Regions from separate parts of the Homo sapiens genome. Here region 1 is linked to region 2. Evidence: fine-mapped expression QTL. Tissue or cell type: whole blood. Region 2 holds a variant in brackets; the other region holds the start of a gene. All regions are shown on one strand. Distances are between the middles of the regions.

Region 1 (8,000 bases), 56 kb after region 2:
CCTCGGCTGCAGGAGCTAAGGAGGGGCGGGGGCGTTAGCCGCCGCTGGGGCTGGCCGTGGCTCTGCCTCTGGCACAGCGAGCCCAGCCCTGGCTGGACAAGGTGGCAGCTGTAGGCTGGGGCCGGGAAGGGAGGAGCCAGCTGGGCTTTTGGACCCTCCCTCCTCTGTCACCTGCCCTCTAGGCTCTGCTCCCCACAACCATCTAGGCCTCGAAGGGCAAGAGCGAGCTGTCTGGTGGGAGACCCTGACTGTCGGGGACCGCAGACATAGGGGCACAACGAAGGTCCCCCAGGCGTCACCTAGAGCTCTCCATGTGGCAGGGCCTGAGATCAACCCAGTGGGGTCTCAGCATTTTCTCAATTCAAACAGAACAGTCCATCGGGTAGGAAAGATATTTCCTACAACTGAGTTGATCAGAAAGTCCTAGTTGACTGCAGGACTGAGCAGGATCAGCCGATGGCAGAGCTGCTGGGGACGTGCGCTTGGGAGAGGGAGAGCGCCTGGGCAAAGCTCAGAGGCTGGGGGTGCGGAACTCAAAACCGACTGCGGAGAGCCCAGCGGGCGGGAGCTGGGGCGCACGTTGGGGCCCTGCCGAGGGGCGGGCAGGGCCCGGTGCCAGCCCCGGCACCGACGGGACGCCCTCCTCCCTCCGCAGGGCGGGAGGATGCCGCCGCCAGCGAAGGAGGGCGGGCGCAAGGGCCCGCGGGAGCGAAGCGGGAAGAGCGCGCCAGGCACGGCGCAGGGTGAGGAGCGTGCCAAGGGGGCGCCCGCGACAGAGCCCCCCAAGCCGGGCTGGGCCCTGACGCCGCAGGGACTGGCGGCCATGCTCCCTGCGCAGCGCCACCGCCATCTGCTCTTCGGCGACCTGCTGGAGGACGTGGGCGCGGCGGCCTCCACCTTCCCGTGCGGGTCGGTGGAACCGGGGTACCGCATGCCCGACCCGCGCCCGTGGACGCAGTCGCTCGAGCTGCCCGCCGAGCGCCAGAACCGGCTCCTCGGCGTCCTCAAGGCAGCGGAGGCCCGCGGGCGAGTCCGCGCCCTGCGGCTGCGCTACACCCGCATGCGGGTGAGGCGAGGGGGTCGGAGGGCAGAGGGGGCGCACCGGGAGCGTTGAGCGGAGCCGGCCGGGGCGGGGCGGGGCGGGGCTCGGCGCGCGCTCAGCTACCCGGGCCCCGCAGGCCGAGGAGATCGCGCTGCTCATCCAGCGGCAGAAGTCCGCGCGCGCCGCCATCCGGCTGGAGCTGTTCCTGCCGCCGCAGCTGAAGCCCGCGCGGATCCCGGACCCCCTGGACCGCCAAGAGGTGCAGACAAGCCCCGGTAGGGGCGGGGAAAGGGGAGGGGCCCTGCCCGCCTCCGCACACGCCGGACCCCAGCCTCTCTCCCCGGCAGCGGAGGCGCGTGGAGACCATCCTGGAGGAGAACGTGGATGGCACCATCTTCCCGCGGTGACGGCGACTGAGAGTGTGCGACGCGCCCCAGCCTCCCACATAAAGTTATAATTCTCCGAAGGCTCGCTGGTCTTTTTGCTGCCACTCCCCAGGACCCCGAGGGAAGCGGGGAGTATGGACGCTGCCTCTCCCATGCACCTCACAGACATCAGGGTACAGAGAGTGGGGCCTCTCCCAAAAAAGTGGGGAGACGCAAGTGGGTGGGTGTGAAAGTAACAGGTCAGGGACACGCCTACCCCTAATCCCGATCTGCCCCCCACTGGCAACCTGGCGTTCTGTGGGTCTATGGGAGGCCCCCAGTCTTGGGGAGGACGGAGAAAGAGCCTGTTTCAGCAGAAGTCACCCCCAGATGTAAGGGTAGCCTCAGGCTGCAGTGGTCTCGAGTGCGAGTCATCCCACCAGGGGGCCAGGGAGAGGGCAGTGCTGTGGGCAGCGGAAGTGACCTAAGCTGGCCTTTGAAGAAGCAGCAGCTGTGCCCAAGAGGACCAAGAGACTGGGCAAGGGGAACCCCTGCGGCCCCCAGACAAAAATCCCACCCTCTGGCCTTCCTTTCCATCCTGAATAGCCTCCTGTGACCCCTTTAATGCCCCATGCCACACCCCCACACCCACCCCCCCACACACACACACCCCACACACACTCACGCATGCAGTACAAAAGGAAGCCACCCCTGTCCCATTCTGACAAACAGGCCCACGACCTACAAAATCCCTGGACTCTGAAAAGCCCCGAGGTTTCTGGGCAGACCTTACTTTTCTCCCCGACGTGAGCTCTTTGCAGACGCTGGGGCTTCCCTAGGCCCCCGCTTCCTTTTCCTCCCTCCCAGCCCCCTGCCCAGCAGGCTGCACAGAAGCGGGACCGCAGGAACTCAGACAAACCGCTCCTCCTGCTAGGGGGCTCCAGCTGACTGGAAGGAGGGGCAGAGGTCAGAACTGGGGTCCAGAAGGGATCCTGCTCCATGGCAGCCAGTGTTTCTCCCCAGCCCCGGCCAGGGGGTGGAGCCCTGCGCACTCGCCCCTCAGCCAGCCCTTCTCCCCGTGCACCGAGCACTTTACTCTTTCTGGGCTGTTGCTGCCCTTGGCCTTGACCCAAGCCCAGACTGTATACAGAGCTCAGAAGTCAGCTGACAAGGAGGGGACAGAGAGATGGCAGGAGGGGTTTCAGGAAGGGAAGGGTAGAGAGGAAGGAGGCCAGGGAGAAGGGGCTTGAGCAGGGGCAGACAGACAGGGAAGGGAGGCAGTCTGTCCAGGAGTGGCAGCCACTCACACCCTGATGTGCTTGTGACATGTGATGACAGCCAGCCCTGGTGTCGTCTGGCCAAACTCCCTGCAGCCTGGACCCCAGGATTCTGTGTCTTGGGGATTGACTGAGTGCCTAGAATGAGTTCATCTACTGGGAGAATCACATATTATTTCACCATTTCTCTGAGACTCCATTTCTTTATCTTTAAAATAAGGGTCTTGGTGCAGTACCCCACAGCAGCAAGTGCTCCAAAGGGGATGGGTCACTCTGCATCAGACAGGCAAGAGGGAAGAGGGGCAGAGACAGGCACAGCAGACCCAGCACCCAGAGAAGGCCAGCAAGACAGTGACCTCAGTGACTGCACCAGGGTCAGGCCGGCACTCGGGCCCTTTGATCCCCATGAAAAGGCGCAGGGGGTGCTGGATGTGCAAAGGAGGCTGGGGAATGGGGCCTGGAGGGACGCCTGCCTGTAGAAAGCTCTATGGGAAGGAAGGCATGTGGTCCAAAGCCCAATATATTGAGGGCTGTCAGGGCGCAGAGGGTCCTGGGTTCAAATCCCAGCTCCGCCATCAACTGCCCAGCTCACCTGGCCCCACCCATGGACTTCAGGATGCTGTGTGCCGAGAGGCAGAAGCCAGGGCGGTGGAGAGCAGGCCCAAGGGGCCAGAGGAGACGGGGGAATGACTGGGGGGTTGTAGAGTGACCCGAGGGGGCAGGGAGGGCACTGACCTTCACCCCCTGCCAGCTGCCCACAGCTGCATTTTCCCACAGCAGAGACAACAGGCCGGCTCAGCGGGGTCAGCCTGGTTGTGTGTGGCCTGGGCCAGGTGCTGGCCCATCTTCGTTGAGCTTCCCTGACCTCACCTGTGCCCACCGCTCAGGAGTGTTATGTGGGCTGAATAAGTAGCAGCCTGCCTCTTGTCCCTGTGGGCTTCCTGGCCCCTGCCTTTCCTTGCCTGGCCTGACAACATGGCAGTCACAGGGTTCTGGGTACAGCTTCGAGAGGCAGCCTGTCTGTCCTCCAGGGCCCTCTGACCTCTGACCTCCCCCTTCGGGCCCCCGCCCCCGCTCAGCAGCGCAATACCCTCCCCTCCTCAGCCCTCCCCCCTCTCACCCAGGCCTTCCCTGCCTGCTCCCCACAACTCACTCTGCGCCCCCCAGCATAAGATCCAGGCTGATCTATGTTGCTGGCTTCTGGTCCTACTGCCTGGCCCACAGGGGCACCCAGATACTGATACTTGTCCGTTGAATGAGGAATACAAGTAGAATCTCCAGCTGCCTTTGCACCCCTCAGAGTTCTGTGAAGGTGTAAGGTGTGCACCTGACCTGTGCAACTGGAAGGCATTTTATGAACAGATCCCGACACTGGGAACTATCCGGGTGGAGTGCTTGTGCTGGGGAGGACAGGAGCTGCACACAGCCGGGCCAGGGGAGGGGCGGGGGGCACAGATGCTCTGCAGACACTTCCAGAGCAGGGTCAGGGCCACCCTGACACAGGGCCAAAGCATGCTGCGATGAGAAGCCTAACCCACGTCTGTACCGAGTCATAAAGGATGAGAAGAGTCGGCCAAAGGGACAGGGCGTTCGTGGCAAAGGGGACAGTGTGGCCTTAAGCTTTAGGACATCTTGGGACACACGGGTCAGCAGGGACTCTGCCAGGCCCCACAGGAGACATTCGGCATGACTCCGGATGCAAGAACCCGCACCCCCAGTTCTCCCCAGCCCCGCAGCACAGGAATCTCCCCCTTCCTTGGGAACCCCCCACAGCACAGACAGGCGGCTCTTAACCCAGTTTTACAGACGCGGCTCACGGAGGCGAGGGGTGGGCCGGGCTGGCGTACCCGCCGATCGGTCCTTTGCAGCAGCCTCCTCTTTCCCAAGCTGGGCAAGCAGCATATGGGGCCCAGCTCTCGTGCCTCCACTGTCGTGGAAGTCCCACACGGATGGCAAAGCAGGAACGGCCCCGCCGAGCAGAGTCGGGGGCCACGGCCACACCCCCATCTACTACCGTGCGGCTCCGTCCGCCCGGGAGCCAGGGCTCCACTATGAGCACCTCGACTCTCCGGGCCACCCCCAGGCGACTGTGGGGGCCGACGCGCGGGCGGGGCGGGTGGGGTGCGGAGCCGGCCGAGCGCGGGGCGGGGCGCGGCGGGCGGGGCGGGCCCGGCGACCGCCGGCGCGAGGAAGTCCCGGCCCCTGGCTTTGGGGAAGTGCCGCCGAGGCGCCTGCGCACTGCGCCCCCGCGCCCCCTCCCCGACTGTCGGGCCGGACCTTGGAGCGCGCGGGCCGGCGGCGGCGCGAGTGGCTCGGGAGCGCGGCTGGTGAGTGCGCGCGCGCAGCGCCGGGGACAGCGGCCCTGCCCCTCCCGGCCCGGGCCCGGGGACCGTGCTGGGCGGGAGCTTCGGGAGCCGGCGCACGGGACTCGAACCCCAAGGGCTCCCGCCGCCAGGTCCACGTGGACCCTGGGCCGCAGTGGAAGTGGAGCCCGCCCCCCGCGCGTGGGGGAGGGGGCGCCGCAGCCGGGTTCCCCTTTTTCTGGAGCTCAAAGCCTGGGGAAGTGATTGCTCAAAGGTGGGGGCCGGAAGAACCCAGGTTTCCGCGTCTCCCTCCCCCTCTCAGCCCGGTGAGGAGGGGCCGGGGCGGGACACCCTGTCCGCCCCCGCCCCCACCCCGCTGGATCTGGCAGCCACTCAGCCCTTCGAGCTGTAGGGGAGGCGCTGCGCCCCCGGCCCCAGCCGATCGGGGGCTCCTGGCGCTAGCCTCCCTCCAGAGCGCCGCAGGAGTCCCTCCTGCCGTCTGACTTGAGTCCCTGCTGCTGCAGTGCACGCCCCTTCGGCAGCCAGGGTGGGGCCCAGACCCAACCTGGCCCCTCCTGCCCCCACCCCGCCTTTGGGTCGCTGGTGAGTAGGGAGCTTTGAGGTAGGGGTGGGGGCGTCAGAGGCTGAAGAAAGAGGCACCTGGAGGAGAACACAGGCTTCTCCAGACTGGACCCTAACAGCAGAGAGAGGAGCGTGGTGGGTGGGCCACCACCACCATTTCAGAGGTGGGGAGAGCTGGCCTTCCCTGGAGGGGCCAGGCCAGGGCTCGCCCACCAGCCAGATGTGGAGGGTGGCAGATGGGAAAGGCCCTGGGTAGGAGCTAAGGACTGAGAATGGAGCCCCTCTTCAACCCCCCTCCCAAAGGTTATGACATTTTTTTCTGGGATTGTCACATTTTCTTATTCTTTTTTTGGACTGGGCAGGCTCTGGGACGTTCTTTTTCCTTCTGTGGAGCAAAGCGGCAGCCACTCCCAAGGGATCCTCTATCCCCAGAGAGCAGACGTGCCGCCTATCCAGCCTATCCCATCCCAGACTTGGGGGCCAAAGCCTGGGAGGCTGGGGAAGGGGGTCCCCAATGCCAGGTTGACAAGCAGGAGGACCCTAGTTGAGACTCTGTATCCCCCAGGAGAGACGGGGGGAGGGTAGCCTGGGGACATGGGTTGCCCCAGTTGACCTGAGAAGGGTACAGGAAGCCAGGTCCAGGGACAGGTGACCAGGTCCAGGGCCTGCAACTGGGAAAGAAGGGGCTGGCTCCCTGCTCTGCAGCAAATGCAGCCCCTAGCACCCCGGCCCTGCACCCCTAAACACGTCCCCTCCTCCAGTTCAGAGCTGGGGTGGAGATGGTAGCCCAGGGGGACAGTCTCAGGGGTGCTAGAGTGTGGGGGAGGACCCTGGGTGGGGACAGAGAGGAGGAAGAACTGCTGCCTGGGGAAGCCACAGACAGCCCCGTCTGGGTACAGCTACCAAACCTCAGGTTGCCACGCCCCTTCCTTTCCCTAGAAACTTGACCCCTGAAAGAAAGCCCAGCTGCAGGGCTACTTTCGGTCTCCTCATCTACTTGCTAGGAGCCCGTGGGACCCCCAGTCTCAGAGGAAACTGGGCCGGTGGTGAGGGGCCAAGGTCCCAGGGGATGCTGCACCTGCCCCAGACTTGGGCCAGGGCAGTGGCCTCTGCATGCCCAGGCCTCGGGGGTATTGGGGGCCCTAAGAGTGCAGAACTCCAGCACTGTCTCTTCTGAGGGCCATTCACACACCGTCCCAGGAGGCCAAGAGAAGCCAACCAGCCAGAAACAAGCATTCAAAGGCCACGAGCTAGGGGAGGCGTGGCGGGGGGATGAAGATTGAGAAAATAAAGTAGAATCAAGTTGTGAGCTTCCTGGCCAGGGAGGGTGGCGGCACATGAGGAGGGTGGCGGATGTGCACGGAGGCCCCTCCCTGCCCTGGGCAGAAGTGGGCGCAGGTGTTCACAACTGCCTCCGGGGCACTGATTGGCCCCCCTGTACCATCGCCCAAGGAGACTTGGGATTCGAAGTGGCATCTTAGGTGGCATGAGGGCCACTCACAGCTTTGGCGCTCCTGGTGCACCTCCCCTGCAGACGGTGCAACCAAATGCTGGGAGGGACATGCACCACACCACACCCCCCTCAGGGACTCCGAGGCTTCGACTGGGGAGCAGGGTGCCCCCCACCCCTGCCACCCCCACTTCCCTGGCTGGCGCACCCTGTGGTAGGGCCTTGGTTCCACAGCAGTTTCACAGCCTAGAGGCAGTGGGCAAGGAGGGAGGGAAGTCTTGGGTGGGAGGTAGCAGGACCAAAGAACCATGTTTGGGGGGCATGTCCCTCCTCACCGGGGCCCTGCCCCCCTTCCCACACCCTCAGCAAGTCCAGCCTGAGTCCCACTTAAATCCTCACTGCTGCAGGTCTAGCCTGCTGCCCCTGGCTGAGACCTCTGGGACCCACAGACAGACCTGGACTCTTGGTGGGAAGCCACTCTGCCCACTCCCCACCCCAGACACCCTAGAAGCCAGTCTGGCCACCACCCGCACGCACCAGTTGGTAGCCCCAGACTCTCGGGGCCCCTTTGGGAGGGGCTGGGAGCCGGAAACCAAGAAAGAGGAACCCAGGCTTCCGGCTTCCCAGGGAGTGAGCGGATGGGGGTGTCTCGGAACCTCCAGTGGGGGCCTCATCTGGGGCCCAGCCTGGGAGGAGGGGCCAGAAGCTGCTGCAGCTCCCTCCTCAATGATCCTGGACCCCCTCCCAGCCCTGCTGTAAGCTTGGGGTCGGGGTAGAAGCCCTAGGCAGAGCTGGGTCCAGAGGCAGGAGCAGGCCCCGCTAGGGAGACACCCTCTCAGGACCCCTCCTAAGGGGTAGGCAGGGGCTGGGGTTTCAGGTTCTCAGTCAGAACCTTGGCCCCTCTCCCCAGACCCCCAGGCTGTGGTGAGGGTCTGAGAGCTGGTACCACGGAGCCTGGGCAACCTCCTCCGCCCACCCATG
Region 2 (8,000 bases):
AGGAGGAGGGGGAGACAAGAGGAGATGGAGCAGAGAGCTCTCCAGAACTTGGCTGTGATGGGGTCGAGGCTAAGAGAGCCTTTGGTTTGTTTTTTAACAACAGACTCCTGAGTGTGTTAAGTCCAAAGAGCAGGACTCCGTGAAGGAAAGAGGGAAGAGCTGCAGCGGGGAGGCTGAACAGGTAGGAGCGGGGCTGGTACTGCCCCCAGCCAAGCCACGAGGCCTCCAGGCCTCATGCCCGTTGCCTTGGCCTCCCACCTGCTCCCTTCATTTGGGAAGACATTCCCTGCCTCCTTTCCACCTTGCACCAACCCACTCACACACCCCAGAGCCCCTTAGTCGCTCTCACTTTCTTCTTTCCTCTTCCAGGGCGGCTGTCTGCCCACACCCCTGCTATCAGCCTGTGAGCTCAGGGACTGACTCTGCTTCTGAGTACATAAAACCTCCAGTCCCAAGTGGCTACCTGGTCCACAGGCACACCCACCTTCCCCCTCAGTGGGATTTTCTGTGGGGCCTGCAGCAGGGACAGTCTCAGGTGTGGGGAGAGCCACTGCCTTGAAATCCAGCTAGCATCTTGACCCAGCCCGTGAGTCACAGGTGGGCCCCCAGCCCTGGGTCAGAGGGTGGCTAGTCATGGCGCCCACCCGGCCTGAGAACGGTGGCAGAAAGGTGAGCTGCCCCTTTCATTTCTTCCCAGGCAAAGCCTCCAGACAACAAGAGCAACATTTTAATTTAAATTCTGATTCCACATTCATTCACAGAGCAGCTCTGAGCAGGGATTTCATTAAAGGCTTTAACAGGTTTTATAGGACTTGTCACCTCAGGGAAGGTGATGGAGCAAATGCATTTTCTCTGCCTCCAGGATTTTAACAACGGCTTGAAGAAACAAACTTACCATGAAAATGCAGGGCAGTCCAGCCTTGTGCAGACAAAGGAGAAATGAGCCTCACTCGGGCAAACAGTGCTGGCGACCTCCTCTCCCTCCCTCCACCAAGGAAAACAAAAGAAGGGCAAGGCCCAGAGTGGACAGAGGCTTCTTCCCTGGGTCAGAGAAACACGAGGTCTCGGGGCCCAAATCCCAGCGCTGCCTGGAGGAAAGGACCCAGCACCTCCCAGCAAAGGCCTCTGTCCACAGCTCCCTTAGTCTGGGGCAGGGAAATCTGTCTGCACCTTGCCTTGGCTTCTTTCCCTGGGCCCTGGGGGACAACTGCCTATCCGCTTTCCCCCTCAGGAACAGGGACACATTAGCAAGGTGACCAGTGTGTCCCAGTTGGCCCAGATTGTGCTGGTTTTAAAACGGAGAGTCCTGGAAACCCCTTCACCTGGGCAAACCAGGACGGTGGAGCACGGGGCAGGACGAGCAGCAGGACGAGCAGCAGGTCAGCCCTGGGGCCCACAGCTGCCGGAGGCTTCCTGGTCACTGTCTGTTCCCAAGCGCCTGAACTTAACCCTAACCCTACCCCTAACCCAAATTCCACTCACCACTGGCAAAACTGTCCTCTGTCCTGGACTACCTCCGCCCTGGCCAGGGTGCTCAAGGCCCTGTTGGTGGTCGAGGGGTTCCTATGGATCCCGGACCCTGGCCTGGGCCTAATCGGAGCCCGCCTGGGCCTCTGACCACCATCTCTCTCTGCTCTGCTGTCAAGGACCACCCCCCGCACCCCCCCCACCCGCCTTCTGCCAGGTACCTCAAGAGAAACATGGATGGCCCCCCTGGGCTCCCTACCCCAGCCACAGGGCTGTGGAGGCCACTCCCTCTGAATGCCACACCCCACACTGCACATGCCCTGCCCGCTCCCCCAACAGCAGAGTCCCTGCAGGACAATGGCCAAGCCTCTCTCACTGGGCGAGCTGCTCCCTCTCCACGGGGGCCCCAGCTACCCAGGTACAGAATTTCTAATAGTCAGAGCAAGTGTTTAGGGAACCATCAAAGCAGGACACCAAAAACAATTGTTTTAAGAATTTGGCTTTTTTTTTTAAGTGTTTAAGTTGACCTCAGGAAAATCTGCAATGTTTTAGACTTTCTTATACTGATTTTATGATTTAATATTGTTTTAATGCTTAAAGATTTTATGTCAAGAAGCATCATAACTTGGCTGGGCACGGTGGCTCATGCCTGTAATCCCAGCATTTTGGGAGGCCGAGGCGGGCCGATCACGAGGTCAGGAGATCAAAACCATCCTGGCTAACATGGTGAAACACTGTCTCTCCTAAAAATACAAAAAAAAATTAGCCAGGCATGATGGCAGGTGCCTGTAGTCCCAGCTACTCGGGAGGCTGAGGCAGGATAATGGCGTGAACCCGGGAGGCAGAGTTTGCAGTAAGCCGAGACTGCACCACTGCACTCCAGCCTGGGCAACAGAGCAAGAATGCGTCTCAAAAAGAAAAAAAAAAAAAAGAAGCATCATAACTTTTTGGCAGGAGCTCAACATACGTGCTCAGTTCCCGTGCCGCAAGAATGGGTGAGTGCAGGACAGCGCATGTGGCTCAGCACGAATCTCTCCGCTGTCCTTATTTGATAATGAGGCCTCTGCCCACCCAATGGAGGGTGAATTCCCCAAAAGTGGAGACAGGCTGGCCTTCATCTCTGTGAGACTTCCCAGAGGCAGCAGCACAGCTTAGCAGAACACAGCTTGAGGCCTGGAGTCAGCCAGTCCCGCGTTCGAATCCCAGCTCGGTGTGACCACGGGCAGGTTACTTAACCTTTCTGAAACTCAGTCTCCTCACTTAGACGGCAGGGTTGTTGTGAGTAGTAAATGAGCTCCTGAAGGTCAACACAAGGAACCTGCATACAGTAGGTGCTCGTTAAAAGTAACCGCTAGTGTCTGATTCCTCATGGCCTTGTTCCAGGGCGTGGCTAGAGCAGGGCTTCACCCGTGTGCACTGGATGAATGAATGACAACAGCCTCCCCGGCCCTCCCCACCCCCACAGACCCTGCCCCATCTATCCCAGCATCACCTGACCCCCACCCTTACCCCAAAACGCTGACATTGAGAGGTCCATAGAGCTCCCCATGGACAGCCCTGGGGTCACAAAGGCAGATTACAGCCTTGTCTAGAACAGCTTGTGGTCAGCTCATTCCACACTGGCCCTACCCTTTGGCCTCCACTAGGCCCAGACCTGAGGCCTCCAACACCCAACCGCACACTGCACCCCTGGGGGCTGAGTCCAGGTGCCCTGGGGAGCTTCTGGAAGTGCCCATCCCCCAAGTCGGTT[G/A]TTGTTGGTTCAGTAATGGAGCCACATCTGGCAAAGCTCATCCCAGCGTCCTGTGCTGCACCTGTCCAGCATCTGGCCCACCCCACTTTCCACCTCTGTGACCTGCAGGGCCACCTGCGGCTGCCTGACTCCGGGCTGCTGGGTGGGACTGGCCTGCAGGGAGCCAACTGGGAGTGGGTGTTTGCTTCCCCAGCCCTCCCTGTAGGGTCCTGCACTCGAGTCTCCCCACACCCAGGTCTCTGCTCCTGCAGGACCACCTCCCTTGCAGCCTCCCTGTGTCCTCCGAGGCCTGAGGGGTCCCACCCAGCATTAGCCTTAGTGGTTTCTCTACATGCCAACCACATCTTAGTCCCTTTATTCATCTCTCCTCAAATTTCCCAAGTTGAGGGTGACATCTGTCTCCTCCATGGATGCTAACTGACACCAATCAATCACGACCTTGGCTCTTATACCAAAATAAAGCCTGGATAGATTTAAAAAGATTTAAAAGTTTTTAATTTAAATAGTACTAGAAGAAAGCATGGGGGAAGGGGGATATTATGAAAAAGATTAATTACCTCATGTAATAAAAAGAAAATTCTCTATGGCAAAACTCCTTAAGCAAAGACAAAAGTCAAATAACAAACCAGGGGAGGTGGTGCCACATACCTGTGGACCCAGCTGCTTGAGAGGCTGAGATGGGAGGATCCCTTGAGCTCAGGAGTTTGAGACCAGCCTGGGCAACACAGTGAGACCTCTGTCTCTCAAAAGAAAATTTTTTAAGAAAAAAATGAAAAAAATATCTGCAAGTATGTAGGTGTAAGTTCCTTAATATGTAAACGCCCCGTACAAATCAATAAGACAAAATCCAACAACACAATAAGAAAAATGGGTCAAGGGCCTGTAATCCCAGTATTCTGGGAGGCCGAGCCAGGCGGATCACTTGAGGTCAGGAGTTCGAGACCACCCTGGCCAATATGGCAAAACCTTGTCTCTACTAAAAATACAAAAATTAGAGCCCAAGAGTTCGAGACCAGCCTGAGCAACATAGTGAGGCCCTGTCTCTACATTTTAAAAAATTAAAGATAATAAATTTTTAAAAAGAAAGAACGAGAGACTTCACAACACACACATTAGGAAGGCATGGGCAGCAAGACACTGCCACCACCTCCGTGGTACAAGCTCTGTGGAGGGCAGTGTGACAATACGCCCTTCAAAGTTAAAACTTCAGACCCCCTCTGCCTGGCACATCTTCCTTCAGAAATCTGCCCTAAGATGTGCTCACCCACTGGGAGACGACTCATGTCCAAGGACGCCTTTGGCACCACTGTCTGTGAAAAAGAAAACGTTGAAAGCAACCTGGCTGTCTCTCAATAACGGCTAAATCGGTCAGGGGCCGCCACACCAAGCAACCTCGATGTCCCTCAATAACGGCTAAATCGGTCAGGGGACGCCACACCATGGGCAAGGGGGCCCTAACGATGCGGGACCTCTTCAAGCCATGGTGTTTCATGCAAAGGCACAGTGCAAAGTCCCCTGACAACTGAGGGAGCGTGTGTGTTTGTGATGCGCAAAACTGAGGGAGCGTGTGTGTTTGTGACACACAAAACTGAGGGAGCGTGTGTGTGATGCGCAAAACTGAGGGAGCGTCTGTGTTTGTGACGCACATAACTGAGGGAGCGCGCGTTTGTGACGCACAAAACTGAGGGAGCATATGTGTTTGTGATGCACAAAACTGAGGAATCGTCTTTGGGATGCACGAAACTGAGGGAGCGTGTGTGTTTGTAACACACAAAACTGAGGGAGCGTGTGTGTTTGTGAAGCACAAAGCTGAGGGAGCGTGTGTGTGATGCGCAAAACTGAGGGAGCGTCTGTGTTTGTGACGCACATAACTGAGAGAGCACGCGTGTTTGTGACGCACAAAACTGAGGGAATGTGTGTGTTTGTGATGCACAAAACTGAGGGAGCGTGTGTGTTTGTGACACACAAAACTGAGGGAGCGTGTTTGTGACGCACATAACTGAGGGAGCATGTTTGGGATGCACGAAACTGAGGGAGCGTGTGTGTTTGTAACACACAAAACTGAGGTAGCGTGTGTGTTTGTGACGCACAAAACTGAGGGAGCGTGTGCGTTTGTGATGCACAAAACTGAGGGAATGTGTTTGTGATGCCCAAAACTGAGGGAGCATGTGCGTTTGTGATGCACAAAACTGAGGGAGCGCGCGTGTTTGTGGCGCACAAAACTGAGGGAATGTGTGTGTGATGCACAAAACTGAGGGAGCGTGTGTGTTTGTGAAGCACAAAACTGAAGGAGCGTGTGTGTTTGTGACACACAAAACTGAGGGAGCGTGTGTGTGATGCGCAAAACTGAGGGAGCGTCTGTGTTTGTGACGCACAAAACTGAGGGAGCGTGTGTGTTTGTGATGTCCATAACTGAGGGAGCGTGTGTGTTTGTGAAGCACAAAACTGAGGGAGCGTGTGTGTTTGTGATGTCCATAACTGAGGGAGCGTGTGTGTTTGTGAAGCACAAAACTGAGGGAGCGTGTGTGTTTGTGATGTCCATAACTGAGGGAGCGTGTGTGTTTGTGAAGCACAAAACTGAGGGAGCGTGTGTGTTTGTGATGTCCATAACTGAGGGAGCGTGTGTGTTTGTGAAGCACAAAACTGAGGGAGCGTGTGTGTTTGTGATGTCCATAACTGAGGGAGCGTGTGTGTTTGTGAAGCACAAAACTGAGGGAGCGTGTGTGTTTGTGATGTCCATAACTGAGGGAGCGTGTGTGTTTGTGATGCGCAAAACTGAGGGAGCGTCTGTGTTTGTGACGCACATAACTGAGGGAGTGCGCGTGTTTGTGGCGCACAAAACTGAGGGAGCGTGTGTGTGACGCACAAAACTGAGGGAGCGTGTGCGTTTGTGATGCACAAAACTGAGGGAGCGTGTGTTTGTGATTCGTGTAACTGAGGGAGCGTGTGTGTTTGTGATGCACGGAATCACTGTCAAGGACCGGAAAGAGGAGAAGCAGAAACGCCTCCTTTTCAAGGGGAACATCACACACCGGGGACTTTTGTGGGGTGCGGGGAGAGGGGAGGGATAGCATTAGGAGATACACCTAATGCTAAATGATGAGTTAATGGGTGCAGCACACCAACACGGCACATGTATACATATGTAACAAACCTGCATGTTGTGCACATGTACCCTAGAACTTAAAGTATAATAATAATAAAATTTTTTAAAAAAAGAAATGCTTCCTTTTCACTGTATGCAGTTTTTTTGTTTTGCGCATTTTTTAAACTATTATTTATTTTTAAACTTTTACTTTTTGAATCATCTGGATGTATAACCAATTTCCCCCAAAAAAAGGAAAATAATTTTTTTTAAACGTTTTAAAATTCCTAATCCTAGGATGGTCCCAGAGTGATCCTGAAGTGCTGTGGGGAAGGGCACACTTTAAGACTCAGGCAATGGGCTGCAACCTCCTGTTCCAGGCCGACCCCCTCAGGTGCTCTCCCCACTCCCCAGAAAGGATGAGGTACCCCTGGTAAAAACCCCTGGATGGGGCAAACATGAACAGTTACTGCCACCCTCTGGTGCACGAGGAGGCAGACGCAGTCTGGAGACCCCGGGGACTCATCCCGAAACTTTAGGAAGCACCAAGGTCCCCCAAAACCCTGTTAAAACCTCATAGGGGTGCTCCAGGGCCATGTTCTGTGTGGCCCAGGGCTCACTGTGAGGGTCCACTGGGCCACCCCCACATGGTCATGTTTGCTGTGCTTTGATTTAAAAATAAGTAAATACATAAATAACCGAGTGTCCAGCCCCTCCCTGAGCTGCCTTGGGGGAGGGCCGGGTCTGAAAGTTAACTGCTCCCCAGCTGCTGAAGCAAAAAGCAGCCGAGGGCCCTTCCCAAAGCTGCTGTGGACCAAGACCCAAGCTCAAGTTCCGGGAACCCAAGGAGCAAATGCAGAGGGTCCTGAGGGTGGACAGTGAGGGGGTCTCTACAGGCCATATGGGTGGACAGTGAGGGGGTCTCTACAGGCCATGAGGGTGGACAGTGAGGGGGTCTCTACAGGCCATGAGGGTGGACAGTGAGGGGGTCTCTACAGGCCATGAGGGTGGACAGTGAGGGGGTCTCTACAGGCCATGAGGGTGGACAGTGAGGGGGTCTCTATAGGACATGAGGGTGGACAGTGAGGGGGTCTCTACAGGCCATATGGGTGGACAGTGAGGGGGTCTCTACAGGCCATGAGGGTGGACAGTGAGGGGGTCTCTTTGGACATGAGGGTGGACAGTGAGGGGGTCTCTATAGGACATGAGGGTGGACAGTGAGGGGGTCTCTACAGGCCATGAGGGTGGACAGTGAGGGGGTCTCTACAGGCCATGAGGGTGGACAGTGAGGGGGTCTCTTTGGACATGAGGGTGGACAGTGAGGGGGTCTCTATAGGCCATGAGGGTGGACAGTGAGGGGGTCTCTACAGGCCATGAGGGTGGACAGTGAGGGGGTCTCTACAGGCCATGAGGGTGGACAGTGAGGGGGTCTCTTTGGACATGAGGGTGGACAGTGAGGGGGTCTCTATAGGACATGAGGGTGGACAGTGAGGGGGTCTCATAGGACATGAGAGTTGACAGTGAGGGGGTCTCTACAGGCCATGAGGGTGGACAGTGAGGGGGTCTCTATAGGACATGAGGGTGGACAGTGAGGGGTCTCATAGGACATGAGAGTGGACAGTGAGGGGGTCTCATAGGACATGAGGGTGGACAGTGAGGGGGTCTCATAGGACATGAGGGTGGACAGTGAGGGGTCTC

What was found. PIP is the estimated chance that this variant, and not a neighbour inherited with it, causes the effect.
Region 1: it holds the start of OPRL1, and the variant in region 2 is fine-mapped to the expression of OPRL1 in whole blood (TOPMed, PIP above 0.99).

What each region holds. Positions count from the first base shown.
Region 1 is chr20:64,076,884-64,084,883 of GRCh38, reverse strand. OPRL1 (opioid related nociceptin receptor 1) reads right to left here and starts at 4,802. Exons shown (of 5, transcript NM_182647.4): 1 at 4,532-4,802. It overlaps RGS19 (regulator of G protein signaling 19), which reads left to right and starts at 5,366. Exons shown (of 6, transcript NM_005873.3): 1 at 5,366-5,590; 2 at 7,930-8,000. The coding sequence starts at 7,998. LKAAEAR1 (LKAAEAR motif containing 1) reads left to right here and starts at 486. Exons shown (of 3, transcript NM_001353425.2): 1 at 486-1,066; 2 at 1,179-1,301; 3 at 1,390-1,508. The coding sequence starts at 665. The coding sequence ends at 1,449. It overlaps MIR6813 (microRNA 6813), which reads left to right and starts at 7,874; the gene lies at 7,874-7,929. RefSeq lists silencers at 1,074-1,153, 1,334-1,393, 4,218-4,391, 4,785-5,464.
Region 2 is chr20:64,133,094-64,141,093 of GRCh38, reverse strand. It overlaps LOC105372727 (a long non-coding RNA gene), which reads left to right. Exons shown (of 3, transcript XR_937008.2): 2 at 104-181; 3 at 863-1,212. Among named protein-coding and RNA genes, the nearest start is that of MYT1, 27 kb to the left of the region's middle. RefSeq lists enhancers at 41-954, 2,791-3,290, 3,291-3,792. The variant G/A (reference allele first, on the strand shown) is at 3,218.